Homo sapiens: one gene and its partners. The protein of the gene in region 1 binds, or shares a complex with, the protein of each later gene. Each region holds a gene or a part of one and is shown in the gene's direction. Other genes may lie near its edges. The genes, in order: PLK1, MIS18A, CDC25C and TCERG1.

Region 1 (7,060 bases):
ATCCTGGTCTCACCATGTGTATTCTGCTGAGGGCTTATTCTAGCCAATGTCATGGCTTCTGGGGCTGCTCAGTGGACTTAGGGATTGTCTTCAGGGGCCCCAGAGTTAGAGTGAGTGTCCAGAGGATGCCTGACCTTTGTTCTGACCCTGAGATGATTTCTCTCATGTCTGGGTTGTGGCTGGGAGACTGGTGCCAAATCCTACCTTGTGCTTACAGGTATACCTTGTTAGTGGGCAAACCACCTTTTGAGACTTCTTGCCTAAAAGAGACCTACCTCCGGATCAAGAAGAATGAATACAGTATTCCCAAGGTGACTAATGATGCTTTAAGTTTACATTTATTTTGTTTTCCCCAGAAGCTGTTTATGGAGCCCAGCAATATCCTAGGACCAGAAATAGGTCTATCCCACCTCTAAGGTAGCCACAGAGCTTGAGAGGGCCTGTGTCTGAAATTGCATACAGAACTTGACATGTATGTGCACATAAGCATTTTTTCTAGGGGGAGAGAGTTGGCAGATTCTCAAGAGATTGGGTAACCCAAAAGTTGTGTAAAAAGCAAAAAACAAAGGAGGTAGGAAGGAGTAGGAGGCAAAAGTGCTTAATCTTTAGAAATGGTTTATCTTAATTCAAATGGATTCTGCCACTTAGCGAGATCACATTGGGCAAATGGCCTGCATCTTTTTTTTTTTTTTTTTTATTTGAGGTGGAGTTTTGCTCTTGTTGCCCAGTGCAGTGGCATGATCTTGACTCACTGCAACCTCCACCTCCCAGGTTCAAGCGATTCTCCTGCCTCAGCCTCCCAAGTAGCTGGGATTACAGGCACCCACCACCTCGCCTGGCTTTTTTTTTTTTTTTTTGTATTTTTAGTAGAGACGGGGTTTCACCATGTTGGCCAGGCTGGTCTCGAACTCCTGACCTCAGGTGATCCACCCGCCTTGGCCTCCCAAAGTGCTGGGATTACAGGCGTGAGCCACCATACCCAGCCTGGCCTGCATCTTCTGAACCATAGTTTCCATATATAAAGTGGAGTTCCTGCCTTGGAGCACCTCACAGAGTGCCTTGCATGTGGTGAGTGCTCTCAGAATTATGAATCACTGTGAATCCCAGGGCTTCCTAATGGCATAGTTGTGTGCATTTTCTTTTTTTTTTTTTTTTTTTTTTTGAGATGGAGTCTCGCTCTGTCGCCCAGGCTGGAATGCAGTGGTACAATCTCGGCTCACTGCAAGCTCTGCCTCCCAGGTTCATGGCATTCTCCCGCCTCAGCCTCCTGAGTAGCTGGAACTACAGGCACCAGCCACCATGCCCGGCTTCTTTTTTCTGTATTTGTGGTAGAGACAGGGTTTGACCGTGTTAGCCAGGATGGTCTCGATCTCCTGACCTTGTGATCCACCTGCTTCGGACTCCCTAAGTGCTGAGATTACAGGCGTGAGCCACCGCGCCCGGCCATGGTGTGCATTTTCACAACCACCAACAGAAATACATTTAAAGGAATAGCTGGTTCCTGCAGAAGCCTAGCACACAGCCAGTTTGAAGTGTAGTGTCCTTGTGTGAAGCCAGGAGGCCTGTCACCATAAGGACAGACATAGTAAATCCATCACAAAGTGTCAGTTCACTGTCAGAGACAGCATGGAATCAAGCCAGCTAGACAAGGCCTTCACCCTCTCTGTGCCTCACTTTCCTCCTCTGTGAAAAAGGGATGATAATAGATCCCCACCCCTTAGATGAGTTGGTGAGGGCTAAGTGAGCTAAACACAGGAGTGCTTAGAATGCTTTCCTGGCACATAGTGAGTGCTAGGAAAGTGAGTTGGTGTTCGGCCACAGTCCATTGACCCTTCTGTCAATGGTGCTCAGTAAAGCTGACAGTGGAGAACTTGGCATTGAACCAAGTTGTGAACCACTGACCTGTGGTGTATTTGAGACTGGGGGCTGCATGTGGGCTGGGGACCTGCAGCTCCTTTGAGGCCGTACTGTACTCCAGGTCCCCTTCACATTCTGCTTATGGCTGTCCCTCTCTCTGCCCCAGCACATCAACCCCGTGGCCGCCTCCCTCATCCAGAAGATGCTTCAGACAGATCCCACTGCCCGCCCAACCATTAACGAGCTGCTTAATGACGAGTTCTTTACTTCTGGCTATATCCCTGCCCGTCTCCCCATCACCTGCCTGACCATTCCACCAAGGTTTTCGATTGCTCCCAGCAGCCTGGACCCCAGCAACCGGAAGCCCCTCACAGTCCTCAATAAAGGTACAACAAGGGTCTGGGTAAGAGAGCAGACCCCCCAGAGAAAGCCCAGGTTGTAGGGGTGTGTGCAGCTTAGTCCCTGGCCCTGAGAGCTCAGGTGTGGAGTAGGACAGGCCTCTGTCCTTCAATCCGTGGTTCCAATGCCCATCTGCTTCTCGGCCCTGCCAGGAAAGACTGACCTTACCATGGCTGGATAAACGTACCATGCCCAAGAAGAAGAAAATGGATTGAATGCCAAGCCTGAAAAATTCTTTCAAATCACTTTAATTAATTTAATTTTTTGGAGACAGGGTCTCTCCTCTATTTTCCAGGTTGGAGTGCAGAGGCACAATCACAGCTCACTGCAGCTTTCAACTCTAGGGCTCAATTGATCCTCCCATCTCAGCCTCCCAAGTAGCTGGGACTGTCAGGCATGCACCACCATGCCTGGCTGACTTTTCTAATTTTTGTAGAGACAGTGTTTTGCCATGTTGCCCAGGCTGGTCTTGGAACTCCTGGGCTCAAGCGATCCTTTCACCTCCACCAAAGTGTTGGGATGACAGGCATGAGCTGCTACATCTGGCCTTTAAAAAAATTTCTAACACTTTTTCATGATTCATTGAAAAACATAAAAATTTCCTTTTTTTTGTGGCGTGATCCCGGCTCACTGCAAGCTCTGCCTCCCGGGTTCACGCCGTTCTCCTGCCTCAGCCTCCTGAGTAGCTGGGACTACAGGCGCCCACCACCATGCCCGGCTGTTTTTTTGTATCTTTTAGTAGAGACGGGGTTTCACTGTGTTAGCCAGGATGGTCTCAATCTCCTGACCTCGTGATCCGCCTGCCTCGGCCTCCCAAAGGGCTGAGATTACAGGCGTGAACCACCAGGCCCGGCCTTTTTTTTTTTTTTTTTTTTTTTTTTTTTTTTTTTTTTTTTTGAGACAGGGTCTGGCTCTGTCTCCTAGGCTGGAGGGGAGTGGTATGATCTCGATTTCACTAAGGATACATAGTTTTAAAAAGTCACTTGAAATACTTTTTTTCTCTGTGGATATATCACCAATTTGATGTACAACTTCAGTTCATTTTTCAGTTTTCAATTTTTAGGTATTGGTTTTTCTTAAACTTCATTTTGGAATAATTTTAGGCTTATACAGAAAAGTTGCAACAACAACAAAAAACTCCCCAGAGTTCCTACATACCTTGCAGCAATTATTACAGTGGAATTTTTTTTGAGACAGGTCTCAGGACTTGCTGTCACCCAGGCTGGAATGCAGTGGCTCACTCATAGCTTACTGCAGCCCCAACATCCTGGGCTCAAACAGTCCCCCTGCCTTACCCTCCAGAGTAGCTAGGACTACAGGCATGTGCCACCATACCCAGCTAATTAAAAAATTTTTTTCTTTGGGAGGCCGAGGTGGGTGGATTGCCCGAGCTCAGGAGTTCGAGATCAGCCTGGGCAACATGGCGAAACGCTGTCTCTACTAAAAATACAAAAGACTAGCCGGGCGTGGTGGTGTGCACCTGTAATCTCAGCTACTCGGGACACTGAGGCACAAGAATCACTTGAACCTGGAAGGCGGAGGTTGCAGTGAGCCGAGGTCTCACCACTGCACTCCAGCCTGGGCAACAGAGCGAGACTCTGTCTCAAAAAAAAAAAAAAATTTTTTTTTTGTAAAGACAAGATCTCACTATGTCGACCAGGCTTATCTCAAACTCCTGCCCTCAAGTGATCCTCCTCGGCCTCCCAAAGTGTTAGGATTTACAGGTGTGAGCCACTGTGCCCTGCCTAGAATGATGTTCTAATGGTAATTTTTCTTTTCCTCACTTTTTTTGCATTTAATAATTGGAATTCTTCTGTAAGGAAGAGCTGTTCCTTCTCTCCGATTGATTTATTTATTTGGTTATGTCTGAAATAGACTCATGGATATTTTTATTCTTTGGGCTATATTTTAAAGGATTACTTATTTCTCTGCTTTTATTTATTTTTTTAAATTTGAGACAGGGTCTTGCTCTGTCTCCCGGGCTGGAGTGCAGTGGCACAGTCGTACCTCACAGTAGCTTTGATCTCCTGGGCTCAAGTGATCCTCCAGCCTCAGCCTCCCAAGTAGTTGAGACTTTAGGCATGTGCCACCGCGTCTGACCAATTTTTAAATTTTTGGTAGAGATGAGGTCTTGCCCACACTGGTCTCAAACTCCTGAGCTCAAGTGATCCTCCTGCCTCAGACTCCTACTTTTTTTCTTTCAGTTTTAATTTTTTATATAGCATTTTAAAAACTTAAGGAAATTTTCAGTTACCCGAAGGTGGAGAGAACTGTATGATGAGTCCCATGTTTCATCTATTTTTACTAGTTATCAACATTTGGACAGACTGTTTTATTTATTCCAGCCTCCTGCCTTTTTTGTTACCGGTGTTTTAAAAAATTATTATTTACTATTTATTATTATTTATTTGAGACATTCTTGCTTTGTTGCCCAGGCTGGAGTGCTGTGGCAAGATCATGGCTCACTGCAGCCTCCACCTCCTGCGTTCAAGTGACTCTCCCACCTCAGCCTCCCAAGTAGCTAGGACTACAGGTGTGCCACCATGTCCAGCTAGTTTCTGTATTTTTAGTAAAGACAGGGTTTTGCCATGTTGCTCAGGCTGGTCTCAAACTCCTGAGCTCAAACAATCTACCTGCCTCGGTCTCTCATAGTGTTGGGATTACAAGTGTGAGCCACTGGGCCTGGCCTTGCTGGAGTGTTTAAAGCAAATCCCTAATATCTTATTATTTCATACCCAAGTCCCTATCATGACATCGTTTTTTAATTGAAAACTTAAACATTTTATATTATACAAGGAGAATTAGCACATGGTGGTGGGGGAATAAATAAATAAGGAAAAAGACAATAAGAATAATCTGTGTTTCTACTGCCCAGATATAATCAGCGTTAAAATTTCATGTTATCTTTTCAAGCTTTTTTGGTTATAAATAAGCATATAAAGCAAATTTTGGGGTGGAAAAAAATTTCTTGTGTTTTTATTTAAATGCCTACTGAATCCATTCTGTGGATGAACTGAACTACTCAGCCCTTCCATCTGCCTGGATGCTGAAGATGCTTTCCATTCTTTGCTCAAAGCTGGGCAGCTCTGAGCTGCTGGTGCCTTCAAGCTGTTTGCCTGAGTGGCAGGTCATCCTGCAGGGCCACACCGTTGGGTCAGAGGCCACGGCTTCTGAAGATCTGTTGCCTCACAGTGAGCACTATGTGCCTGTCACCTGAGCATGGCAGCTGCTGCTCTAGTAACCAGGCACTGATTCAGTTTCCCCAAAGCAGTGGTAGCTAAGAGAATTTTTCTTTCGGAAGAGTTTCAGCTGTGGCAGGGGAGTCCCGTGCCCTTCCCAACGCCCCTGTTTTTGTCACCTTCCTAGGCTTGGAGAACCCCCTGCCTGAGCGTCCCCGGGAAAAAGAAGAACCAGTGGTTCGAGAGACAGGTGAGGTGGTCGACTGCCACCTCAGTGACATGCTGCAGCAGCTGCACAGTGTCAATGCCTCCAAGCCCTCGGAGCGTGGGCTGGTCAGGCAAGGTGGGTACTGCGGGGCCCTGGGCGGGGCAGGATTGCTTGGGGCATCTGGAAAAGGCAGGAGGAGGCTTGGCCAACAAAGCACTGGTGACTTGTTCAGGCCCTGTCTGCATAGGACCATTGGTTTCCCCATTTCCTGATATCCAAGGCCCTGCTTCCGTGGCTCCTGCCGCCTTTTCTGATCCGTCTTTTTTACTCTAGCACCTCGATGTGCCACCTTCATACGCTGTTTCTTTTGCTCAGTAAGTTCCTATTGTATCTTCAAGACCCTTGAAATAACAGACCCAGATGTACTGCAGCCTCAGGGCTTTCTCCCTGGTCCTGGCACGAAAGCACTTCTTCCAGACACCACATGGCTCACACTGTGGCCTCCTTCAAGTGTCTGCTCCAGTGTCAGCTCTGTGAGCATCTCCCTGGCCCCTCTGCTGGTGCTTCTCATCCTCTTGCCCACTGCATAGTTCTCCATAACACTTCTCACCCAACATAGTCCAACATGTCCTTCTTTGTTTATTGGATTTAAATTAAGGGGTTTGTTGCATGCACTGAACGTAACATTTTGATGTGTTTGCAACTGGCTTCTGTCTTCACAGTTTCTTAATTACTCCAAACTGGAAAACTAGATGCCTCTGACTCTTACCATGATAGAAGTCACTGATATTTTGCCCATACTTAAATTGATTAGTCTTTGCCCCTACAACCACAGTGTAAGCTCCGTGGAGGCTGGGGTTTTGTCTGTTGCTCACTGAACCTGCAACAGTGCCTGGCACGGTAGGCCTTCAGTAAATGGGTCAGTGGAATGAAGGAGTGAGTGGAACTTGGTGCGCTGTGCTGAGACTTTCTCTGCAGAGATATCTGTGCTGCTGCTTGTCTGAGCCTGCTGGCAGCAGAGGCCCTGCTTTGCTCTTCTCTGGGGCCCTAGGCCTCTCAACTGAGCCCAGGTGGGGTGCCCAGCAGGCTTCCCTGTTCCCTGGTGTGGGCCACATGTGTGGAGCAGAGGGGAAGAGGCTGGTCCTGACCAACTAACTGTCTGTCTGTTTCTGTCTCAGAGGAGGCTGAGGATCCTGCCTGCATCCCCATCTTCTGGGTCAGCAAGTGGGTGGACTATTCGGACAAGTACGGCCTTGGTAGGTTTCTTCCAGAACAGGTGGGTGACTCAGGCACAGCCAGGTGACCTTTTCAGTTGTTACAGACTCTGGCCTTTTTGAGCTCCCAGGTACTGTTCTCAGTGCCCTCCTCTCTCCATCCCAGGCCTCCCAGTTCCAGCTCCCAGTGCTCCCTGACTCCC
Region 2 (7,652 bases), on another chromosome or scaffold:
TCTCTGTGTTCTTCTAAGGTCCTCTTAGGGAATAGACAATTCTGTAGGCACTTTCATTGCAAACAGAATCCCAGTGAAGAAATGGTAGCGTCAGTCCAAGATACTAATCAACATGGCAATCTTCACTACAGGATGAGAACTGTTTTCCCTTTGCCCCAGGTAGGACATAGGCCGCCTTAGCCTTCCCTGCCTCAGGTGGGGAAGGGGCTGTGGCTGGCCCTGCTCTTTCCCACCTCACCTGTTCCCTGCGGTTTTCATTTCTGCCTAGCCTGAGATGGGGAAAGTGGGGGATAGGACAGTTTTCACTTTGATATGGTTTGGCTCTGTGTTCCCACCCAAATCTCATCTTGAATTGCAATCTCCATGTGTTGAGGGAGGGGCGTGGTGGGAGTAATTGGATCATGGGGGCAGTTCCCCCAGGCTGTTCTCATGATAGTGAGTTCTCACGAGATCTGGTGGTTTTAAAGTGTGGCACCTCCCCTTGGCTTGCTCTCTCTCTCTCCTGCTGCCACGTAAGACGTGCTTTGCTTCCCCTTTGTCTTCCGCCATGATTGCAAGTTTCCTGAGGCCTCCCCAAGCCATGCAGAACTGTGAGTCAGTTAAACCTCTTTCCTTTATAAGTTACCCAGTCTCAAGTAGTTCTTTATAGCAGCATGAGAACGGACTAATACACACTTGAACTTGTTCTAACTTTGTTTTGCACTCTTAGGTAAGATCTAGTTAGACCTGACCCTCTCTCCTAGTCCCCTCGGGGACTCCCTGCACATCCCAAATCCCAGTGCATGCCCATGACCCACTGGGCAAGGCCTCATCTCAGGCTGGCTTTCCCTCTGCCCTGGTTCTCCAGGAGTGCTGTTCACACTTGACTCACCACTGGGGAGTCTTCGTGCTTCCAGGTTAGCTCCTTAGGCAGAAATTAAGACTCTAGGTGACATCCTGCCAGCAAAGTTCCGATCTGGCTGACAACCTACCTTGTTTGCCTTTGTTGTGCTACCAAAACACACGCAGCTTGACGCTCCTGCAGGTCACCCTGTCCCCAAGTGCCTGGGAACCAACAGGTATGTAAGTGTCTCCTCAAAGTCTCTTATCAGCCAAATTGAGGCAAGGAGGCAGATACCCTCATTTTCTCTATTGGGGAGGGGCCCATCTCCAAAGAGATCCTTCCAGTGAAGTCATCTTGGTCACGATTTTCTCCCTTCCTTTATATTCCCAAAGTGTGTGAGAGAGGTGTTTAAGAGAAGGAGGAAATCAGCTAGCATGGTGGCCCATGCCTGTAATCCCAGCACTTTGGGAGGTCGAGGTGGGTGGATTACCTGAGGTCAGGAGTTCAAGACCAGCCTGGTCAACATGGTAAAGCCCCGTCTCTACTAAAAATACAAAGATTAGCTGGGTGTGGTGGCACGTGCCTGTAATCCCAGCTACTCGGGAGGCTGAGGTGGGAGAATCCCTTGAACCTGGGAGGTGGAGGTTGCAGTGAGCTGAGATCATGTCACTGCACTCCAGCCTGAGTGACAGAGTGAGACTCCAAAAAAAAAAAAAATAATAATAAGCAGGAGGAAATCATCTCTCCTAAATCTACTCTGAAGATTCCCCCAGGAAGGAGGGCAATCTCTCTCACACACACTTTGATATCTCATTTTTACTTCATCTTGGAGTCTTAGTGGAAACTTCAATTTTAACATACTGTAACAGATTGCTACATACATTTTTGGTTGCTAGTAAAAACAAAACAACAATTGAAACTGGCTTCCACAATAACTGGAACTGGTTGGCTCACACAACTGGAAGGATCTAGAGATTGGGTGCTGTTTCTCTGTGATTCCCTTACTCAGATTGGGCAAAATTGAACTTGACAAGGCCAAGTTTTTATTCTGAGCCAATCCCTATTGCCAGGGGAGCAGCACGGGTCGCCAGGGGTAGGTGCCATCCCTGCCCCAATCGCTATGGAAGAGTCATGGTCATCCTGATTGATCGGGTTAAACCTCTAGGGACTCATTCCCGGAACTGGTGGTGAGAGTGGTGGAGATGGACTCAACCTTATCCAAATCTCCTAGTTAGATAACTAGGAAGTACGGTGAGAATGTAGTTTAGGAAGCAACCACAACCACAAACTACGAGGTCATCTTTTTCAAGCATCTCATTTTGTCCTCCCATAAATATGATGATTTTGTGGTTAGCTGAGGTTTTGTTTTGTTTTTTATTTTTTTGAGACAGGATCTCATTCTGTCACCCAGGCTGGAGTGCAATAGCATAATCACAGCTTACTGCAGCCTCGACCTCCCAAGCCCAACCCATCCTCCTGCCTCAGCCTCACAAGCAACTGGGACTACAGGGGCGCACCACCATGCCTGGCTAATTTTGAAATCTTTGTAGAGACAGGGTCTCTCTATGTTGCCCAGGTTGTTCTCAAACTCCTGGGCTCAAGTGACTCTCTCGCTTCAGCCTCCCAAAGTGCCGGGGTTACAGGCATGAGCCACCATGGCTAGCCTTGTTTTTATATTCATAATATTAATACAAACACACTTGTGCCTATAGAGGAATTCATTTTGCATCAGCCAACTTCTCCATGATGTGCAGGAGGCATCATGCCTACAAACCATGATATTCTGAAGGACCATGAAAATGTTTCAATTTTTTTAATCAAGAGCAATAAATGAACTTACAGGTCTAAAAATGTTTTATGATATCATTTTAATATAATCATCTTCATAGCAATGTGACTATAAAATGAAATTTTTATTAACTGTTTTATGGAGAGAAAGGCCTACTAAGGCAAAAATAGGGCCCCTGAAAGTCACCACGCAGCTCGGCCTTGTATTCCTTCTTTCCTGGGGCATCCTATCATAGAATTTAAGTATTGACAATAGGAACCCAAAGTCTGAGACAAGATGATCCTTTGAATCCCCAAGTAACTAGCCACTTACTTAAAGAACTCATGTGGATTGTATCAATGTTGTACCAGAGATATTATGCTTGAAAACAACAGTCCAGGAAGGTCAGGCTTGGCTCTACAAAAGTAGAAGGGGCAAAGTATGGTGAGGCATGCCTGTAGTTCCAGCTACTTGGGAGGCTGAGGCAGGAGGATCGCTTGAGGCCAGGAGTTCGAGACCAGCCTGGGCAACATACTGAAACATCATCTCTGAAAAAATAAAGAAAAGAAAAAAAAAAGCAGAAGGAAGGAAGGGAATTCTATGGGTAAAAAAAAAAAGCCTAAATTATCTAAAGCATTTTCTTCCAGTAAGAAGGTGATTAACATGAGCATGGTGTGCCAGGGTTTACAAAGTATTTTCATGAATATTAGAAAACTCGATCCTCATGAACAACTTGGTGTAGTACTGAAGAAACAGACTCCATTTACTCCATGAAGAATTAGACTCAGGGAAGGCAAACAGCCTTTTCCACAGTTCCCTACACTGTTACTACCTTGTGGAGGGAGGGGTAAGTTAACCAGGACCACTGACTCCAAAGCTTTTGCTTTTTGCTAGTGGCTGTAAGCACTAAAATTGGAAGTACATTTACATAAATAGTTTATGCAACCAAGCAAAATAGGCAGTGACTTGGGGGACACCCAGAGCGTAGTAGGAACAGAGTAGGTCCTTGCAGGTAGCTTTCTTCCCAGGTATACCACCAGACTGTCTGTGGTGCAGCTGGCTGGTTCCCCGCCAGCTTTCCCTCCTGACCTACGGTGTTTTAGGCAGAGGCTGGCTTTCTGGGGCAGCTGAGGAAATCTGTCCTTATCATCAACAAGGGATGCTTCTTCCTTGCAAGGACGAATTGTTCCTTGATCCAAGCAGCAGGGACACTTCCAGGCTTTCCAGGGGCACTGCTGCTTCCTCAACTTTTTCCTTGCAGTGACAGCCTGAGTGATCCGGGGCCCTTCCCAGGGTCTCATTCCAGGGATAGCAGTGCGCAAAAGGACCCTGTGATGAGGGACTCCTCTATCCCCTTCCTTCTCCACTTCATGGAAAGGAGGTCCCCAGGAGCCGACAAAATAGAGCAGTGGTCATCAAAAGTGGAGCTGCTTATATACAACTATAATTAGTCCACTTACAAAAAAGAAGAAAAAGGGTGGTGGTCTGGCACAGTGGCTTACGCTTGCGATCCTGGCATTTTGGGAGGCCGAGTAGGGAAGATCGCTTAAGGCTAGGAGTTCGAGACCGGCAACATAGAAAAACTCCCCCCCCCACCCCCCAAAAAAGGTTGGGCTGCCAATACTGACAGCGTGGGCACGCCTAGGAGCTTGTTAGAAATGCAGATTCTCGGGCTAACCTGCTACCTGCTGAACCAGAGTCTGCGAAGATGGAACCTGGCGATCTGCTTAAGAAGCTCGCCAGGCGGTTCTTAGACACTCAAGCTTGCAACCCGTAACTTTCTCAGTGACGCTGCCCCTCCCACGGAAAGGGGTGAATAATCCTTAGGAAGACAAGCAAACAGGTCTGCATCATCAATTTCTTCAGGCTGGAAAACCTGACGCAGGCGCAGTGACTATCACGCTTGGCCAAGGCCGCACGGCGCGCATGCGCACTAGAGGCCGCCCGCCGTCCCGCCCCCTTCAGGCTTTTGCCCCTTCTCGGCCTCCGCCACCGCTCCCCGCCCCGCGCATGAGCAGCGGCGGTTTTTTTTCCCATGGCGCTCTGGGGCGCGGGCGATTTGTAGGTAATGGCAGGCGTTCGGTCACTGAGGTGTAGCAGAGGATGCGCTGGCGGCTGTGAGTGCGGCGACAAGGGCAAATGCAGCGACTCCTCGCTGTTGGGCAAGAGACTCTCCGAAGACTCGAGCCGCCACCAGCTGTTGCAGAAGTGGGCGAGCATGTGGAGCTCCATGAGCGAAGACGCGTCGGTGGCCGACATGGAGAGGGCGCAGCTGGAGGAGGAGGCGGCGGCTGCGGAGGAGAGGCCGCTGGTGTTCCTGTGCTCCGGCTGCCGGCGGCCGCTGGGCGACTCGCTGAGCTGGGTGGCCAGCCAGGAGGACACCAACTGCATCCTGCTTCGCTGTCAGTTGGGTCGAGCCGGGCAGGGGGGGCGTGGGGTCGCCTTCTTCCAGGGGTGCCGCGCGTGGGCGGCCCGGGAGGAGGCGGGGGCTCCTTGGGGCTGCCCAGGGACTTTAAGAGCAAAAAGTCTGAGAGTGTGAGCTGTGGCAGGAAAAGGGGAGGAGGGTCACCCCTCCACTTTGGCTCTCGGGCGGTGGGTTCTTTTCTGGGGTCCCCGATCCCAGAAGAGCAGTGGTTGAATCAGCATCATCGTGAGCATTACTCAGAAACAAAGGGCGACAAAGAATAACACTTTTAAAGACCCTAAAAAAAGAGAAACAAATGGTCAACTAGACTGTAAGCACTTGAGGTGCAGCCAGTACTATTACTCCCCATAGAAATTAGCAGGCTGTTGGTGTATCAGCGGATGCCTCTACAGCCTCCAGTGATAGAGCCGCAGAGTTGACGGAACACAGTGCTATAGGGAAGAAAGGGAAGGAAACTTGCAATAAAAGCACCAACAACCCCATGAAAACTGGCGAGGAAGGAGGATGTAGCAAAAGAGTTCAGAAGAAGGCAGGAATTAGTTTCTAATCCTGGTTCTAGCAGTTACCTCTTACCTCTGTTGTTCCACTGTTCCCTCATTTTGATGTTTTTGCAGTATTTAGGGATAAAGTGGTTCACATATTTTTTATGAATTGGTGTAAGAATGGCTGTTGTTTTTGGATTGTGATTTTTCAAGATGAAGTTTTTTCTGTCTTTGAATGCCGTAAATGTTCCGATGGCAGTAATTCACCACCGGCTTATCGACGTTTCTGGAACGTTTTCCTTGGTGTAATACTGGGAATAAAGGAGCACACCAGTGTCCAGTAGTTAACTGAAAGTTGAGATTAACTCTTTGCACCTATCAAAATCAAACCAGGCCGAGCGCGGTGCCTCAGGCCTGTAATCCCAGCACTTTGGGAGGCCGAAGTGGGCGGATCACGAGATCCGGAGATTGAGACCATCCTTGCCAACATGGTGAATGAAACCCCATCTCTACTAAAAATACAAAAATTCCAGATCAGCCTCGCCAAAATAAAAAATTAGCCGGGCATGGTGGTGTGCGCCTGTAATCCTAGCCACTCCGGAGGCTGAGGCAGGAGAATCACTTGAACCCGGGAGGCGGAGGTTGCAGTGGGCCGAGATTGCGCCACTGCACTCCAGCCTGGAGACAGAGCGAGACAACGTCTCAAAAAAGAAAAAAAAGAAAAAAGCAGATTTTTGGTTAGGTAGGAAAAGCTCTTTGTTTGAATGAGATTCCCTTGTTTACATGTTTTTAAGGAATAACGTGTTTGATGTTACATCTTTCATTTTATTTGTTTGTTTCGATAGAGTGTATTTTTTGCCATGTGGGCTCTTTTCGTTGTTTTGCGTTACTTATAGAAAGACTGTTTTTGTTATTTAATTTTTATAACAATAGCTTTTAAATTTAAAACATAGTTCTAAAATAGTAGTTTAAAATTTAAAGAACTATACATTTTTTGATTTATCAGATTTAGATAATAGGATTTAACACCTCCCCACACCCCCCAGTAAAGACAAATAAATGAACTCGGATTCATTTCCATTCCTTCCTTACCCAATTTGAATTAGTTTAATTATTTTCATTTTGTCAAGGTTTATACATTTACATTCTGTACATTTACATTCTGTTCTGTAGCTATAACAGCCTAACTATGATTTTTTAAAATAGGATTATTTATTTAATAGGTTTTTTTTTAATAGGGTTATAGTGGGTTAACAGCCCTCTGTTGCCCAGGTTGGAGTACAGTGGCGCAATCATAGCTCACTGTATGTAACCTTGAACGCCTGCTCAAACTATCCTCCCGGCTCAGCTTCCCAAGTAGCTTGGGACTACAGATACACACTAACACCTGGCTAATCTTTAAATTTTTTGTAGAGACAGAGTCTTGCTATGTTGCTCAGGCTGATCTCAAACTCCTGGCCCCAAGCAATCCCCTGCTTCGGCCTCCTAAAGTGCTGGGAGTACAGATGTGAGTTACAGCACCCAATCCTATAAAGTTTATATAAATTGTTTTCCCAACTCCAGTACTCATTAACATAAAAAAGCTTCTTAATAGCTTTTTCATTCCTGAATTGTTTGATTAATCATTAGTGCTCCCCACGTCCACATCTCCAAGAAAATTTCAAGTTTATGTGCTAGAAAATATTTTCCTTTTTTTTTTTTTTTTTTTTTTTTTTGAGACAGAGTCTCACTGTGTTGCCCAGGCTGGAGTGCAGTGGTGCAGTCTCAGCTCACTGCAAGCTCCACCTCCCGGGTTCACGCTATTCTCCTGCCTCAGCCTCCTGAGTAGCTGGGACTGCAGGCTCCCGCCACCACACCCCGCTAATTTTTTTGTATCTTTAGTAGAGACGGGGTTTCACCATGTTAGCCAGGATGGTCTCGATCTCCTGACCTCATGATCCGCCTGCCTCGGCCTCCCAAAGTGCTGGGATTATTTTCCTGTATTTATAAGTGAATGCTAGCTTGGCTGCAGGTACAGTTCTTGGTCACGCTCTTTGCTTTTGACAGGTGCTGAGCAGCTGGTGCAAAAGCCTTGAGACTGGTTAAAGAGAATAAAGATAAGATTTAGGGAGGAAGGAAGAGATCAGAAACTGCAAGGCGTTGTAGTCTGTTCTA
Region 3 (7,893 bases), on another chromosome or scaffold:
AGGGTCTTGCTGTTGCTCAGGCTGGAGTGCACTGAGGCGATCACAGCTCACTGCAGCCTTGAACTTCTGGGCTCAAGCAATCCTTTCCATCTCAGCCTCCTGAATAGCTAGAACTACAGGGGTGTGCCACCATGCCCAGCATATTTATTTCTATTTTTGTAGAGAGAGGCGTCTTGCTATGTTGCCCAGGGTAGTCTCAAACTCCTGGCCTCAAACAATCTTCCCATCTTGGCCTCACAAAGTGCTGGGATTGGCGTGGTGTCTCACACCTGTAATCCTAGCACTTTGGGAGGCTGAGGCAGACGGATCACCTGAGGTCAGGAGTTCGAGACCAGCCTGGCAACAAAGTGAAACCCCGTCTCTACTAAAAAATACAAAAATTAGCTGGGCATTGTGGCGCCCATCTGTAATCCCAGCTACTCGGGAGGCTGAGGCAGGAGAATCGCTTGAACCGGGGAGGCAGAGATTGCAGTGAGCCGAGATTGTGCCACTGCACTCCAGCCTGGGCAACAGAATGAGACTCTGTCTCAAAAAAAAAAAAAAACAAATGAACAAAAAACGAAGTGCTGGGATTCCAGGTGTGAACCACCACACTTGACCTACATACTTTGATATATATTCTCATTTTTTCTTACAATCATCAAATGAAACAAAACCTTCTCTTTGACAAATGAAACAGCCCAAGAAGTTAAGTGACTGCCCACATGGTAGGCAAAGGTACTCTCAAAAAGCAGTCTAAAAGCCCTTGCTTTTCACCACTAAGCTGTTCACCTTTTTATTATTAATTAAATTAATAATTTAATTATTATGAATTAAATGGTTGAGTTAAAAGTAGGCATTGGCTCATTTGCAAAACATTGAAAGAAACTGAGACCCAAAACAAAACAAAAAAAACAAAACAAAAAAAAAAACCCTGCAAGTCAAGTTTCAGGCCTCATTTCAAAGGAAGGTTACATCCCCTTTCGTCATCTATAAAATGGCCTCCCAGTGCAGCCCAACACTCCTACCCATAATTAAATCTCCTTATTCCACTTTTAGTTCCCAAGGATTTTTTACTCATGTCCTGCTCTTTCCCTGCTGCCCCCTTTTTAGTCTTTTGTTCTTGAGCCACTGCTTTGAACTGCATCTTAATTATGCCCTCATGGGCCAAACCCCATCTGTGACCCTGCTCCAGTGGGTTTCAGCAAAGGATACTCTCCATCCATATTCTGAGGGCTCCAGGGCCTGGAGCCAGTCATCCAGGAGGTCATCCAAAGGAGTGGAATCCATTGGTTCTAAGACTCTTCATTCCCTGCCTAGGAAGGAACAGCCGAGTTGGAGGAACATGCACTCGATTCAGACCTTCCCTTTTCACCCAGTGAAAGCTAAACCTCTGCAAAGTGGGGAGAAGTAGGGCTAAGCCTACCAGTCATAAAAAGAACCAGGAATAGAAAACACACCCCTCAGCCCCTCTGCCCTGCAGAGGCTGGCTGGGAGGATCCCAGGAATGCAGGGCTCTTCTCCACTGCCTGATCTGGGCATCCCAGGAGTGATGGCTGTACCTCCTGTTCTTGTTTGGTGTTTCAGGGTGAAGCCCGGGCTGTCACTGTGCCCTGGCAACAACATGTATGAGTCAGACTGAGGTCAAGGTGAAGGAACACAGCTCACTGCTTATCACAGTGAATCAGGAGCCTAGATAGGGATTCCCCAAGGATGACATAGGATCAATGCCCTCAATCCAACAGAAAAAGTAAATCTTCAAATCAGATTAAACACCAAACTTCCCACCTCCCTAATATTCTTTCTTCTGGGAAGGATAACTTAGATATATTCCAACACCCTCATAAATCAAGATATAAAAGACAATATTTGACTTCCCTTTAAAATAATTCTACCATTTCACAGTTTGTATGTATGCATGTAAACTTACATGTAATTAGCTAAGTATGTTGCAATTAGCTAAGCCAGCTGGAATCATGAGGAGATAGTGAAAATGTTTGCTAGGAAAACAACCTCATTAACAAACGTAGAGCTTTTAAGAGTTTTGTTGGCTGGGCATGGTGGCTCACACCTGTAATCCCAGCACTTTGGGAGGCCGAGGTGGGTGGATTACCTCAGGTCAGGAGTTTGAGACCAGCCTGGCCAACACAGCGAAACCCTGTCTCAACTAAAAATACAAAAATTAGCCAGGTGTGGTGGCGCATGCCTGTAATCCCAGCTACTCAGGAGGCTGAGGCAAGAGAATCACTTGAACAGAGGTTGCAGTGAGCTGAGATTGCGCCATTGCACTCCAGCCTAGGCAACAAGAAAGAAACTGTCTCAAAAAAAAAAAGTTTTTTTGTTGTTGTTTTTAGGAGACAGTCTCACTATGTTGCCCAGGCTGGCCTCAAACTCCTGGGCTCAAGTGATCCTCCCAAGTAGCTGGGACTACAGGCGCACCACTGCATCTGTAAAAAGTCTTAAGGGCGGCCGGGCGCAGTGGCTCATGCCTGTAATCCCAGCACTTTGGGAGGCCGAGGTGGGTGGATCATTTGAGGTCAGGAGTTCCAGAACAGCCTGGACAATATGGTGAAACCCCACCTCTATTAAAAATACAAAAATCAGCCAGGCGTGGTGGCGGGCACCTGTAGTCCCAGCTACTCGGGAGGCTGAGGCAGGAGAATAACTTGAACCCAGGAGGCAGAGGTTGCAGTGGGCCAAGATTGCGCCACTGTACTCTAGCCCGGGAGAGAGCGAGACTCCATCTTAAAAAAAAAAAAAATACTCTTAAGAGCTAGGTGTATAAGTTCCATTTGAGAAATCTCAGAAACTTATTTTTGGGGCTAGATTTTTGGAGAATTTGTTTTAGGAATGCTGCAACTTTGTCAGAGTGCTCAGATTTTAGTATATTTCCATCACCTGACATTGAACTAAAGCCACTTGGCTGACACCTTTGTTGTGACCACCCACAACTGCACTTACTTGAGGACCTGGTGCAGAAAGCACTGGTAGCCAGGTGTGCACTTGCCATAATCTATCTGCTTTTGCCACCAATAGAGAATAACTTTGTCTCTACTTCCCACCTGCAGGGAAGTATACAATTTCCCACAAAGTGTGATTATACTGTAGTCGTCAAAGCAGATAACAACTCATCCCACACTCCCTTAATCCCCAGCCTGATTTTCAAACTCACCTGGCATAGCAAGGTTCTGTGCTAACTCCTACACTCACTGTCTGTATCCTAGAGGACAAAGAATCTTCACACATCTCCTTTCTGGGGAAGCAGGTTCTGCAGATGAAAAGGGTATTAGGATAAAAACCAGCTGGCTACACTGTGCCTCTCAGCCACTACCACCACCAAGATCCTGACAACAGACACAAGTTGCATTTTGACTTTTGTTTCTCAAAGCATGATCTGCAAGCCGTCTGCATGGGTAGCACCTGGGGGCCTTGATAATGACCCCACTTTAGACCTATCGAATTATCGTTTTTGGAGCCTACATCTTAAAGAGCTTCCAAGGTTATTTTGAACATTTTTATTATGGAAATTTTCAAATATACATTGAAGTAAGAAGTATGGGGTAATACCTTACCACGCAAAGTATGGTCGTAGGACCAGCTACCTCACCATCAGCTGGGGGCTTGTTAGAAGGGCAGAATCTTGGGCCGCAACCGCAACCCAGACATCCCGAATCAGAATCTGCATTTAGCAGGTCCTCAGGTGGTTAGTGTGCAAATTAAACCTTGAGAAGCACAGATATGATGGACCCTCCTGCCCCCATCACTCAACAGTCAGGGTCAATCTTGTATCATCAATACCTTCCCCCAGCACAGGATTATTTAAAAGCAAATCCCTAACATTAGGAATGTCTTTTTGTTTGTTTCACTCTAATGCCCAGGCTGGAGTGCAGTGGCGCAACCTCTGTCTCCCGAGTTCAAGCAGTTCTCATGCCTCAGCCTCCCAAGTAGCTGGGATTACAGGTGTGTGCCACCACAACCGGCTAAATTTTGTATTTTTAGTAGAGACGGGGTTTCATCATGTTGGCCAGGCTGGTTTTGAACCCCTGACCTCATGTAATCTGCCCGCCTCGGCCTCCCAAAGTGCTGGGATTACAGGTGTGGGCCAACGCGTCCGGCCAATAATTTATAAATATCACCTCGTCAATGTTCAAATTTTCATTAATAACCAATCTTTGAGGTCCTCTGGATTGCGATAAGGATTATACCAAGATGATTTAATTCCTCCACTTTCCCTGCAACGGAATTTCTTTTTACCCACGTGAGCTAGAGTCTCTGAGATGCTGCACACTAAAAGAAACACCAAACAAAGCTCTTGGAAGGGGCTAATGCCTCTCAGCATAAACACACACACCCGTCTCGCCCCAACACTTGCCACGCCGGCAGCAAACGCTCCATCTCCCGTGGAAGGCCAGCAAAACTTAGAAGAAAACGTCCGCGAAAACGGCACGAGAAAGAAGCGAAGAAAATGAAACGCTTACAACACCCTCCACCCAAAATAATCTCTCCTAGTATTACCCTAGTGAATGGACATCACTAGTAAGGCGCGGTTTAAATCTCCCGGGGTTCGTGGGGCTGAGGGAACGAGGAAAACAGAAAGGGTGTGGAGATTGGTGAGAGGGAGAGCCAATGATGCGCCAGGCTCCCCGTGAGGCGGAGCTTACCCCGCAGCCTGCCTAACGCTGGTGGGCCAAACACTATCCTGCTCTGGCTATGGGGCGGGGCAAGTCTTACCATTTCCAGAGCAAGCACACGCCCCCAGGTGATCTGCGAGCCCAACGATAGGCCATGAGGCCCTGGGCGCGCGCGCGGAGATTGGCTGACGCAGCTTAGAGGCGAGCGGGGATAGGTTACTGGGCTGGCGGAAGGTTTGAATGGTCAACGCCTGCGGCTGTTGATATTCTTGCTCAGAGGCCGTAACTTTGGCCTTCTGCTCAGGGAAGACTCTGAGTCCGACGTTGGCCTACCCAGTCGGAAGGCAGAGCTGCAATCTAGTTAACTACCTCCTTTCCCCTAGATTTCCTTTCATTCTGCTCAAGTCTTCGCCTGTGTCCGATCCCTATCTACTTTCTCTCCTCTTGTAGGCAAGCCTCAGACTCCAGGCTTGAGGTAAGTCCGCAGCCGTCTCCGCCACGGAATCACGGAGACCCCATTGTCCCCCTTAGGGTCCAGTCGGGCCCCCACAGACAGAGGTTGGGAGGGCCGAATGGGGACTATCGCGAGTTACGAGACCCGGGTTCTTTCTAGTCAGGAGTCTCGAGCTGTGTGGCGTGGAACAAGTCAAAATCCTCTCTTCATTCCATCTTTAAGGTCCTAAGGTTGCCTCTCGTCGGTGAATTCAGGTTCTAACCTTAAGCCAGGCTGTGAATCACCCTTCGGGGTTGCCCCTCTTCCAGTGTTGATTCGCCTGGCTGGAAAGGGTGGAGGAGTTTAGGAAAGCTGAGGGAACTGTGATGTACCGATTTAGATGACGTTTTCCTCCTAGCTAGGTTTTGTTTTTCTCCTGGTGAGAATTCGAAGACCATGTCTACGGAACTCTTCTCATCCACAAGAGAGGAAGGAAGCTCTGGCTCAGGACCCAGTTTTAGGTCTAATCAAAGGAAAATGTTAAACCTGCTCCTGGAGAGAGACACTTCCTTTACCGTCTGTCCAGATGTCCCTAGAACTCCAGTGGGCAAATTTCTTGGTGATTCTGCAAACCTAAGCATTTTGTCTGGGTAAATATACTTTTATTTTTACACTGTATTGCCTTTGCTATTTCCAAACAGTTGGGTTTGTTTGTTGGTTTGTTTTCAATTATCCCGGCTCAAAGGTCAGGCTTTAAGTCTCAACTCTGCCCTTGACTGTGTAACCCTTTTGAGTCTCACCTTCTTTTCTGTGACAAGAAATAATCTCAGCCAGGCGAGGTGGCTCATGCCTGTAATCTCCGCACTTTGGGAGGCCAAGGAGGGCGGATCGCCTGAGTCTAGGAGTTCAAGACCAGCCTGGGCAACATGGCAAGACGCCGTCTCTACAAAAAATATTAAAAGTTAGCTGAGTGTGGTGGTGTGCACCTATAGTCCCAGCAACTCGGGAGGCTGAGGTGGGAGGATTGCTTGAGCCCGGGAGGTGGAGGCTGCAGTTAGCCAAGATCGCCTCACTGCACTTCAGCCTGGGAAACAGAGTGAGACTCTATCTCAAAAAGAAAAGAAAAGACAAAGAAATAATAATCGCTTCCTATCTTACTAGGATCTTGTGAGAATCAAATGATGTGATAACTGGGAAAAGTCTTTGAAAACCGCTGCATTACGAGTCGGTCACTTTATTAGTATTAATATTAGTGTTATTGCAGTTGTACTTTGAATTCTGATCATACCATGTCTCAACTAGCAAAGAGAAGTAGTACCTGAGAAAAACTAGGGACCCCAGGGAGAAATCAAGCCTGTGTTCATAGTGCTCAGGACCGGGAATGTGGAGTCAAGATCCCCCTCGGCCAATAAACTCTGGGCCTCATTTAAAAAAAAAAAAATTATCTGTTTCAGTATGTTGGTAAGGAGAAAATAAAGTACAGATTATGGTAGTGGGAGATTTTTCTCAGCCCAGTCTGATATATTTCCCAAAAGCAATTAGATTTATTTGGACACTGTTCAGATGATCTGATAGTCATTAAGGGGTGTTTCAAATGAACAGGCTTGGCCAGGCGTTGTGGCTCACACCTGTAATCCCAGCACTTTGGAAGGCCGAGGTGGGTGGATCACCTGAGGTTAGGAGTTTAAGACCAGCCTGGCTGACATGGTGAAGCCCCATCTCTACTACAAATACAAAAATTAGCTGGGCGTGGTGGCAGGCGCCTGTGATCCCAGCTATTTGGGAGGCTGAGGCAGGAGAATCGCTTGAACCCGGGAGGCGGAGGTTGCAGTGAGCCAAGATCGTGCCACTGCACTTGAGCTGGGGGGACAGAGCAAGACTCCACTGCAAAAAAAAAAAAAAAAAAAAAAGAAGAGGATGACATGATCTTTGACTTTTAAGGATATAATAATCTAATGGGAATTTCGATGTACTATTATGTCTCAACAGAGGAACCCCAAAACGTTGCCTCGATCTTTCGAATCTTAGCAGTGGGGAGATAACTGCCACTCAGCTTACCACTTCTGCAGACCTTGATGAAACTGGTAGGGAGAAGGGAGATAAAGGCCTCAAAGGGAAGAATAACTTTTAAGGGAGAAAACAGGGAAGGAGGATAGAGACGGAAGGTGGTGAAAGTATAAAAAGAATCTGCCTAGAGAGATGGAATTTTGTGGGTAACTAGAGGATTTTTGAGAATGATTAAGCCAATGGGAAGAGAAAGATAATAACACTAATAGGAGCTACTTTGCATATGAAAATGTTAGACAAGTAGGAATATATTTTGTTGACTGATTAATGGTGGGAATGAAAGTATAGTCATTAGGATATGAGAAGTTTTGTGCCTCAGTCTAATCTCAGCAGAGGCAAAGAAACCAGCATAAAGAAATATGTTGTTGGCCAGGTGCAGTGGCTCATGCCTGTAATCCCAGCACTTTGGGAGGGCAAGGCGGGCGGGTCACGAGGTCAAGAGATCGAGACCATCCTGGCCAACATGGTGAAACCCCATCTCTACTAAAAATACAAAAGTTAGTTTGGCATGGTGGCACGTGCCTGTAGGCCCAGCTACTGGGGAGGCTGAGGCAGGAGAATCTCTTGAACCCGGGAGGTGGAGGTTGCAGTGAGCCAAGATAGCACCAATGCACTCCCGCCTGGCGACAGAGCGAGACTGCATCTCAAAAAAAAAGAAATATGTTGTCAACTAATTTTTATATGTTTTATATGAAATATTCCAAAAGGAATGTTTCATAAGTTAACCTTCCAGAATTCTAATTTCAGATTTTCTGAGTGATAACCTTTCTTTTCTACCCATAA
Region 4 (7,991 bases), on another chromosome or scaffold:
AAGCTACTATTATTATTTTCTGCTATAATCCTGTATGTTGATTTAGTATGACACTTCCTATTCATGGAGTAATATTGTTTATTTAGTTCTAGTTTCTTGGCTATCTCATTGTCCTCACTTATATATATGCAAAAAGGTGGACCCTATCTTGATTTTGACCTTGTCAGTAAAGCACGGGCTAGCAAAATGCCGTTTTTCAGTCCATTCTGGCTGCTGTAACAAAATACCATAGACTGGGTGGTTCATAAACAATAGAGATTTATTTCTCACATTCTAGAGACTGGAGAGTCCAAGGTCAAGGTGCCAGCAGATTTGGTGTCAGGTGAGAACTAGCTTCCTCAGACGACCTTCTCACTCTAACCTCATGTGGCAGAAGAGGGCGAGAGGTTGCTCCTGGGCCTCTTTTACAAGCGCTCTAGTAACATTCATAGGGTTCTGCCCCCATGACCTAGTCACCTCCCAAAGGCCTCGCATCCTAATACAATCACCTTGTGGGTAAGAATTTCAACATAGGAATCCAGACCATAGCAGCCCTAGAGAAACTCTGTAAACAAATATTACTTATTGATGATTTTTAGTTGCTGCCTATGCCATGGTAAATAGTTCATTTATGAAATCTCAGGGCAACTCTTTGTTTTCCAAATAAAAAGGTCGAAGCTGTGAGAAGTGACTTGCTCAAGATTGTACAGCCAGTAGTTGATAGAGCCAGGACTAGAATCCTGACCTAATTTACCCCGAAGCTCATTAGCAACCTCTATCCATACTGCCTGTGAGGGAGCTAGCAGATGCATCCAGCCTGGGATTCTCTATTTCTGAGATCTCTTTAAATATTTCAAAGACCAGTATTTCCAGTTAGGAATAACATAGCTGCACAGTTTATGGGTTAATAAGTGTGTTATTAGGAGCTGGGGGCTTCAGCCAGGAAAACAGTCTTTTTAAAGCATTTACAGTCTAGAGGGAAGAGGAAGAAATGATACATTGTGATTTGGGTGAGACACAGGATTGAGTGGTCTCTAACTGGCTTTGGTGTTAGACACACACGTGTTTGAATTCTGGCTTCCCCTCTTTTCAGCTATCTGAATGTCGCCTTGCATCAGTCCTATCATCTGTCTGAGCCTCAGTTTCCTCATTTGTAAATTGGGGACAATACATCCACCTTGCAGGGCTGTTGAAAGGACTGGAAATAGTGTATGTAATGTACCTCCTATGGATTTAAGATAGGTGCTCAAAAATGGCAGTTATTTTTTTAAAGCCTGATTCTGCATTGGAACCAGTTCTCAAGAGCCAATTCTGATGAGTGTCTTCACAGCAGGACCTAAGCCCTGATGAATTAATTTGTCTGAAACCAACATTTTCTCTTCATTTCATCTTGATATGCTAATTTTGGGGGGTCAATAATTCAATGGTTACCAATTAAGCAAGGATGGTATTTGCTATTCTGTTCTATATAGTTGTGTACATTATCAGTATCCAAATAGTTATCAAGCTTTGACTATCGGAAAGTCCATTTGGTCTCTTAAAAGATGCACTGAATCTCTTCAATTCCTTTTTCATTTTGATTCAATAAAATGGTTCACTCTAGAAAAGCTGTGTAGACATAGTTCAAGTCAGAAATTTGCAATATGTTATAAATAACTATTGAGCCAAACTACCTGAATTTGAAGGACATTTTTATGGGGATACACTATAGCAATGAAATAATGAAATATATACATATATACACATATGATTATCATTACATGTGATAGATATACATATGTATATACTTAATCTATTTAAAAGATTATACTATAATATAAATATCTTAAAGTATATTTAGATAAAAATAACATAATAAAAACTATCAGATAATAAAATTTTTAATACCTGCAAGGAGTTTCTTCAACTGACAGTTTGTTTTCATTTTTTATTTGAGATGAAGTCTCACTCTGTCACACAGGCTGGAGTGCAATGGCGAGATCTCAGCTCACTGCAACCTCTGCCTCCCAGGTTTAAGCGATTCTCCTGCCTCAGCTTCCCAAGTAGCTGGGACTATAGGCACGTGCCACCATGCCTAGCTAATTTTTGTATTTTTTCAGTAGAGACGGGGTTTTGCCATGTTGGCCACGCTGGTCTCGAAATCCTCAGGTGATCCACCTGCCTCGGCCTCCCAAAGTGCTGGAATTACAGGCGTGAGCCACAGCGCCCGGCCTGTTTTCATCTTTTATATATGCTAGTGACTTATTTTCTATAAGCTTTCTATTTTGAATCTTTTTTTAGTAGGAATTAGTTTGTAATGAGCCATCTATACCAGTATTATTTTCAGAATATTGACCAGAACTTGGGGATACACACTGATGTTGAAAAAGGGATCTAACTCCCAACTTTTAGTCAAACTATAGTTTGTTCAAATGCCACACCTTTTTTTTTTTCTTTTTTAAGACAGTGTCTCACTCTGTATCCCACGCTGGAGTGCGGTGCTGCAATTACAGCTCACAGTAGCCTCGACTCAAGTGGGCTCAAGCGGCCCTCCCACCTCTGCCTGTCAAGTAGCTGGGACCACAGTCATGCACCACAATGCCTGGCTAATATTTTTGATTTTTTGTAGTGGTGAGGTCTCACCATTTTGCTCAGGCTGGTTTCAAACTCCTAAACTCAAGCAGTCCTCCCGCCTTGGCCTCCCAAAGTGCTGGGATTACAGGCCTGTGGCACCACACCCAGCCTCAAATGTCACATCTTTAACAAAATTTTCACCATGCTCTCCTCCAATTACTCATGCTCAGAACTGTGTGAAGCCTTTATCACAATTTATCATATTTAATTGATTTTGAATATTTAACTGGAATTCAGTGTAGAATGGTGTTTTTGAATTAAAATATAATTCACATACAATAAAATTCACCTTTTAAAGTATACGAGTTGGCTGTATGCAGTGGCTCACACCTGTAATCCCAGCACTTTGGGAGGCCAAGGTGGGCAGATCACTTCAGCTCAGGAGTTCAAGACCAGCCTGGCCAACATGGCAAAACCCCGTCTTTACCAAAAATATAAAAAATTAGCTGGATGTGGTGGCGGAGGCCTGTGGGAGCTACTTGGGAGGCTGAAGTGTGAGGATCGCTTGAGCCTGGGAGGCGGAGGTTGCAGTGAGCTGATATCATGCCACTGCACTCCAGCCTGGGTGACAGAGTGACACTCCCTCTCAAAATAAGTAAATAAATAAATAAATAGTATAGAATTCAATGGGTTTTAGTATATTCACAAAGTTGTGCAACCATCAGCGCCAATTCCAGAACATTTTTATCATCCAAAAAGACATTCCATATCCATCAGCAGTCACTTCCAATTCCTCATTCCCCTCTACCTCCTGGAAACCACTGTTCTACTTTCTGTCTGTATGTATTTGCCTGAAATGCAATGCAATTTCATCATATTTCATGTAAATGGAATCATACAACAGGCGGCCTTTTTGTATGTGGCTTTTTATGTCTGAACAATATTTCATTGTACAGTTATACCATGTTTCTTTTTTTTTTGAGACGGAGTCTCGCTCTGTTGCCCAGGCTGGAGTGCAGTGGCGCGATCTCTGCTCACTGCAAGCTCTGCCTCCGGGGTTCACGCCATTCTCCTGCCACAGCCTCCCGAGTAGCTGGGACTACAGGCGCCCGCCACCACGCCGGGCTATTTGTTTTTAGTAGAGACAGGGTTTCACCGTGTGAGCCAGGATGGTCTTGATCTCCTGACCTCGTGATCCGCCCGTCTAGGCCTCCCAAAGTGCTGGGATTACAGGTTTGGGCCACCGCGCCCGGCCTATACCATGCTTCTTAACCATGCATCAGCTGATGGTCATTGGGTTGTTACAATACTTTTTGGCTATTATGAATATTGCTGCTGTGAACATTTGTGCACATGTTTTTATGTGGATCCAATTATTTAGGCTTACAGTATTTAAGAGTGCTGCTTTGCTACTACGCTGACTGGGGTTAAGACCAGGCTCTGCTATTTAGTAGATGTGTGACCTTGGGCAAGTTACTTAACTTCTCTGTGCCTCAAGCTCATCTACAAACAGTGACTATGTTACCCACCTCCTAGCAATTTTTGAATCTTAAAAGAGTTAACGTACCTGACATACTTAGATCCGGGTTTGCTACATGGTTAGGTCCAAGTAAAATTTATCTATTAGTATTATTTTAATATTTTTACGACTTTAATAAAAGGGCTCATCTTCATTGTGCCTTTGAAACCCCAAATCCAAAACTTTTTTTTTTGTTAATTAGAAAAACTAAATAAATATTCAGAATTGTCTGGTATTCTGGGTGTGCTAATTTCAGACAAGCACATTTTGAGATCGAGGGAGACGTGGTTAAGCTGTAAATTGCAAAGAGGCTTGCCTTCGCCAATTTACCTTTCTTAATGCAGCAACTTATAACACCTATTGGCTTGCAACGGTTTAGTATAATTTGGGAGGTATTCTTGTAATTAATAATATATTATTTAATAACATGGATATAGAGCTGAGTGGTGACTTAAGACTCCTGCTACTGTAAAGCTAGGAAATAGCGGCTTTCCACAGCAACTGTGCAATCGGTTTAGGCGCGGCCCAGGTCGATTTTGATTGGCTTGCCCAGTGGAAATGCTCTCCGCCTGAGCTACTACTGGCCAATATGGCTCCACAATTGGCTCTCCTGGAAGCCGACAGACACGTGGCTACCGCAGGCTGAGCCGAACTTGGGAGGACTTAGTTCTGCTTACCGCGAGAGGGCGCCGGCGGTTCCTCACTGCTAAAATCTCATTTCCCATAAAGCCCCCGAGTCACCAATCAACTGGCTGTCTTCATACCGCTTTCAAAGTCGGCGGGCGCCTTGCCCAATAGCAAAGAACATATCGCCCCCATTTCGAAGATTGATGGAAAGTTTGACCAACCGCATCTCAGACTTCTGCTGTCTCCGCCTCTCTCGTTGGGGATTGACGATTTTTCTAGCCAATAGGAGACGTCGGGTCGGCGGGTGGATGAACGCGGCCCTCTGTAATGGCGGAGCGTGGCGGGGACGGGGGCGAGAGTGAACGATTCAACCCGGGGGAGCTCAGGTAAGGAACGCTGCCCTCCTTCACATCTCTGCTCACGAGAGCCCCAGAGGCTAGACGCTAGACCTGCCATGTGGAGATCCGGGGCGGACGGTGGGTAGCGGAGCCGGGCGGCCCGGGCCGGGACCGCATGGGGTTTAAGAAGGGGGAAGGGGAAGGTGGCTTGAATGAGAGCCGGGCCCGGGCTGGGCCAGGGCCTCCTGCGCGTTCCCTGGCTGCTTCCTAGTGCTTTCTTGGGGCCTCGCCGCCTCTCGCGGCCTGCAGCCCTCTGGCCGGGCGCGGTGCTCCCGCCTTTGGGCCCCGCCTCAGCCGCGTGTCGCCTCCGTCTCGGCCGACCTGAGTCTGTCCCCAGGCCGCGCTCCGCTGCGGGCCTGATTTTCCTCATCGACGTCTCTGCACTCCGCAGTTACTTTCCCTGTACCCCTCGCCACTTCTGGCTAAGCCTTCTCCACGCCCTCCGCGGCTCTTTGGGCTCCCCACGTTTGCCCTTTCATTTCATCCCCCTCATTGCTTGCCTTTCTTAACTTCTGTGGCTTTTCTTCCTTTTTTCATCCCTTTATTCCTTATTATCCTGTAGTTGTGAGTAACAACAACAGTAGCAACCCCTTATTAGGCACTTACCGTGTGCCAGTAAACCCTTTACTTAGGTTTGTCTCATTTAATCCTCACAACCACCCTTTGGAGTAGTTGCTATTAACATTTTGCAGGCCACAGACCAGAGGGGTCTTCAGTTGTTACTCGCCCATCTTACAGGTGAGATAACAGCCTCGTGGAGGTTGAGTCAGTAGAATAAGATTGCATAGGCGGATTTGTGGCTCCAGGAAGTGGCTTGAACTCAGGCAGTCAGGTTTCAGAGCCTGCAATCCCAATTGGCGTTCTATTCGTCTACTACTCATGCCATTTCCTTGAACAGTGCAGTGACCTTTTTTTCCCCTGGAACCTCAGTGTCTATGAGTTTGTAATTAAAATTTGGTAAAATGAGAGTGACCTGGAGAAATCTTTTGGTCAGTGGTTTTTGAGGAAAAGAGGTATTATGCTTTATGTGTATTTGGTACTTTGGTTTTTTTCTGTATGGGAGAAATGGCATTTCAGATGTTCAGCTCCCATTCTGAATTGTGCTGTTGTCAACGTTTGAAAATGAAAAAGAGCAGGGTAGATTATGAAGACTCTGTTGATACTGTCTTGAACTTAAGATGAAATTGTGTAAGGAAATGGGTATTGTTATTCAAGGTTTTAGAAGAGGAAAATGCCTTTCAGATTCTGTATGGTCGCACACACAAATCTCCACTTTGGCAGAAATGAAATTTTGTTTTATTTCAGAGATGAATCTGAAATCCTTTAAACTCCATATGTATACAGTATTAATGAGTGATCAAGGTGAATTGTCAGCATCTTTAAATATTAGCGATGCCAAGTTTATTCCTGATTTCGATCTTAAAGGGAGGTTACTTAGCTAGTTTCAGATGGATTTATTAGGGAACATTCTTTTGCATTTTAGAAAGTATCTTTCTAAAGCTTTAAAAAAATCCAAATGGCTTTATTAATAGTCTAGACACTGTTGCACAACTGATTTGAATAGAGCTTTAATTTGCAAATGAATTTGCCCTGTTGCAAATATTTTATACCGTAGCCTCTTGGATTGGAAGTTGCTTGCAGAGCATACTGTACAGATCTTTATTTTAGCATTTCTCATGAAATTAGGTGTGTATGTGGCCTCTTTGATGGCAGAAGTTGGGGCTTAATTTTTGCATTATATTTGTAACCTGAATGTACTTCATGGTGTGTCTGTCATAACCGCCTGGCAAATGAGATGTTCTGTAGTTATGTTGTAAATAAATGAAGATAGGAGATTTAAAGATACTTCACTTATTGGGCCGACATTTATTGTGTGCTACATGACAGTTGCTGACCTAGGTGCTGGTAATAGTGCCCTGAACCAGACCGAAAAAAGAGGTTTGTCCTGCAGGAGCTTCCAGCTTAAGTAAGAGCCATCTAAATTGTAAATGAAATCAACCACATCAAATGATTAAATCTGCCTGTAAGTGTGAAGTGACTTACACAAGGTCACTGGGTAGTTGGCAGGGTCTGGACTAAACCTCAGGTCTCCTCAATCATAGTTTATACAATTTGCCCCCATATATCGGTAGCATCTTTTTATTTCTTGCCCCTCCAGTTAAAGTATTGTCTTTAGCATTGGGGAGATTGCATATCTGGATAGAGAACTTCTATTGTAGAAAAATACCTTATGTTTGTATTTCCATGATGTTCTTGTGAAATATTTTTGTTCCTTCTATTCATGCAAGTAGGCTTTTGTTTTTCAGAAAGGTTGTAAGTGGTAGGAATGCAAATCACAATAGATGGAAAATTTATAGACGTTCCAAATACCATTAAAGTAACTTCCAGAGTCATTTGTATAGATCCTTTCCCTAGAGCCTTTGTTTACCTATCAATACTTAAGATACTTGCAATCTAAATTTCCTTATCTATAAAATGAGAATAAGAATATTCTGGTGTTATCACTGACTAGCTGCCTTAAGAAAATATTTTTCTGTGCTATCATTTCCTCTGTAAAAATGGTGTCAAACTTACCTTATTGGGCTGTAGTGAGGATTAAGAGTTAATACGGATAATGTCTGTATAACCATGCTGGTATATAGGAACTTTACTATCATTATTAAAACAATAATGTGTTTTAATGTGTTGCAACAGTATACTAAAGGGAACTATATACTAGTGGCTAAAGATAATACAGAAGTAAATGGGAGATTTCTTCATAGCATTTATCATAATCGAAAACTCAAATTAGGAATAATGATCCTGAGAGGGCCTGTAGAGGCCAGAAGTGGGAAAACAGTTTGAGGTGACATTTGAACTAGAGGCTGAGTAATGAGAAGGAGCTAGTTATGTGAAAATCTGGGGAAGAACATGCT

What was found.
Region 2: the proteins of PLK1 (region 1) and MIS18A are in contact, whole or in part, in a crystal structure (PDB 8S30), measured with the Homo sapiens proteins. Residues at the interface, in NP_005021.2 of Homo sapiens: Lys413 (codon at 6,866), Trp414 (codon at 6,869), Val415 (codon at 6,872), Asp416 (codon at 6,875), Asp419 (codon at 6,884), Leu490, Leu491, Arg516, Asn533, Phe534, Phe535, His538, Lys540; in NP_061817.1 of Homo sapiens: Ser50 (codon at 4,807), Met51 (codon at 4,810), Trp52 (codon at 4,813), Ser53 (codon at 4,816), Ser54 (codon at 4,819), Met55 (codon at 4,822).
Region 3: the proteins of PLK1 (region 1) and CDC25C are in contact, whole or in part, in a crystal structure (PDB 3BZI), measured with the Homo sapiens proteins. Residues at the interface, in NP_005021.2 of Homo sapiens: Lys413 (codon at 6,866), Trp414 (codon at 6,869), Val415 (codon at 6,872), Asp416 (codon at 6,875), Tyr417 (codon at 6,878), Tyr485, Glu488, His489, Leu490, Leu491, Arg516, Phe534, His538, Lys540; in NP_001274511.1 of Homo sapiens: Leu126, Leu127, Cys128, Ser129, Thr130, Pro131, Asn132.
Region 4: the proteins of PLK1 (region 1) and TCERG1 are in contact, whole or in part, in a crystal structure (PDB 3Q1I), measured with the Homo sapiens proteins. Residues at the interface, in NP_005021.2 of Homo sapiens: Lys413 (codon at 6,866), Trp414 (codon at 6,869), Val415 (codon at 6,872), Asp416 (codon at 6,875), Tyr485, His489, Leu490, Leu491, Arg516, Phe534, Phe535, His538, Lys540; in NP_006697.2 of Homo sapiens: Pro101, Pro102, Pro103, Met104, Ser105, Ser106, Met107.

What each region holds. Positions count from the first base shown.
Region 1 is NC_000016.10:23,681,847-23,688,906, forward strand, and holds part of PLK1 (serine/threonine-protein kinase PLK1), read left to right. Parts: intron 1-217; coding exon 218-311; intron 312-2,023; coding exon 2,024-2,243; intron 2,244-5,622; coding exon 5,623-5,778; intron 5,779-6,821; coding exon 6,822-6,899; intron 6,900-7,060. UniProt on the Homo sapiens protein: Serine/threonine-protein kinase that performs several important functions throughout M phase of the cell cycle, including the regulation of centrosome maturation and spindle assembly, the removal of cohesins from chromosome arms, the inactivation of anaphase-promoting complex/cyclosome (APC/C) inhibitors, and the regulation of mitotic exit and cytokinesis.
Region 2 is NC_000021.9:32,276,022-32,283,673, reverse strand, and holds the start of MIS18A (protein Mis18-alpha), read left to right. Parts: upstream 1-4,624; 5' UTR 4,625-4,659; coding exon 4,660-4,993; intron 4,994-7,652. UniProt on the Homo sapiens protein: Required for recruitment of CENPA to centromeres and normal chromosome segregation during mitosis.
Region 3 is NC_000005.10:138,328,787-138,336,679, reverse strand, and holds the start of CDC25C (M-phase inducer phosphatase 3), read left to right. Parts: upstream 1-4,875; 5' UTR 4,876-5,060; coding exon of another isoform or gene 5,061-5,085; intron 5,086-5,461; coding exon of another isoform or gene 5,462-5,499; coding exon 5,500-5,693; intron 5,694-7,032; coding exon 7,033-7,127; intron 7,128-7,893. UniProt on the Homo sapiens protein: Functions as a dosage-dependent inducer in mitotic control. Tyrosine protein phosphatase required for progression of the cell cycle. When phosphorylated, highly effective in activating G2 cells into prophase.
Region 4 is NC_000005.10:146,442,345-146,450,335, forward strand, and holds the start of TCERG1 (transcription elongation regulator 1), read left to right. Parts: upstream 1-4,988; 5' UTR 4,989-5,005; coding exon 5,006-5,064; exon of another isoform or gene 5,065-5,154; intron 5,155-7,991. UniProt on the Homo sapiens protein: Transcription factor that binds RNA polymerase II and inhibits the elongation of transcripts from target promoters. Regulates transcription elongation in a TATA box-dependent manner.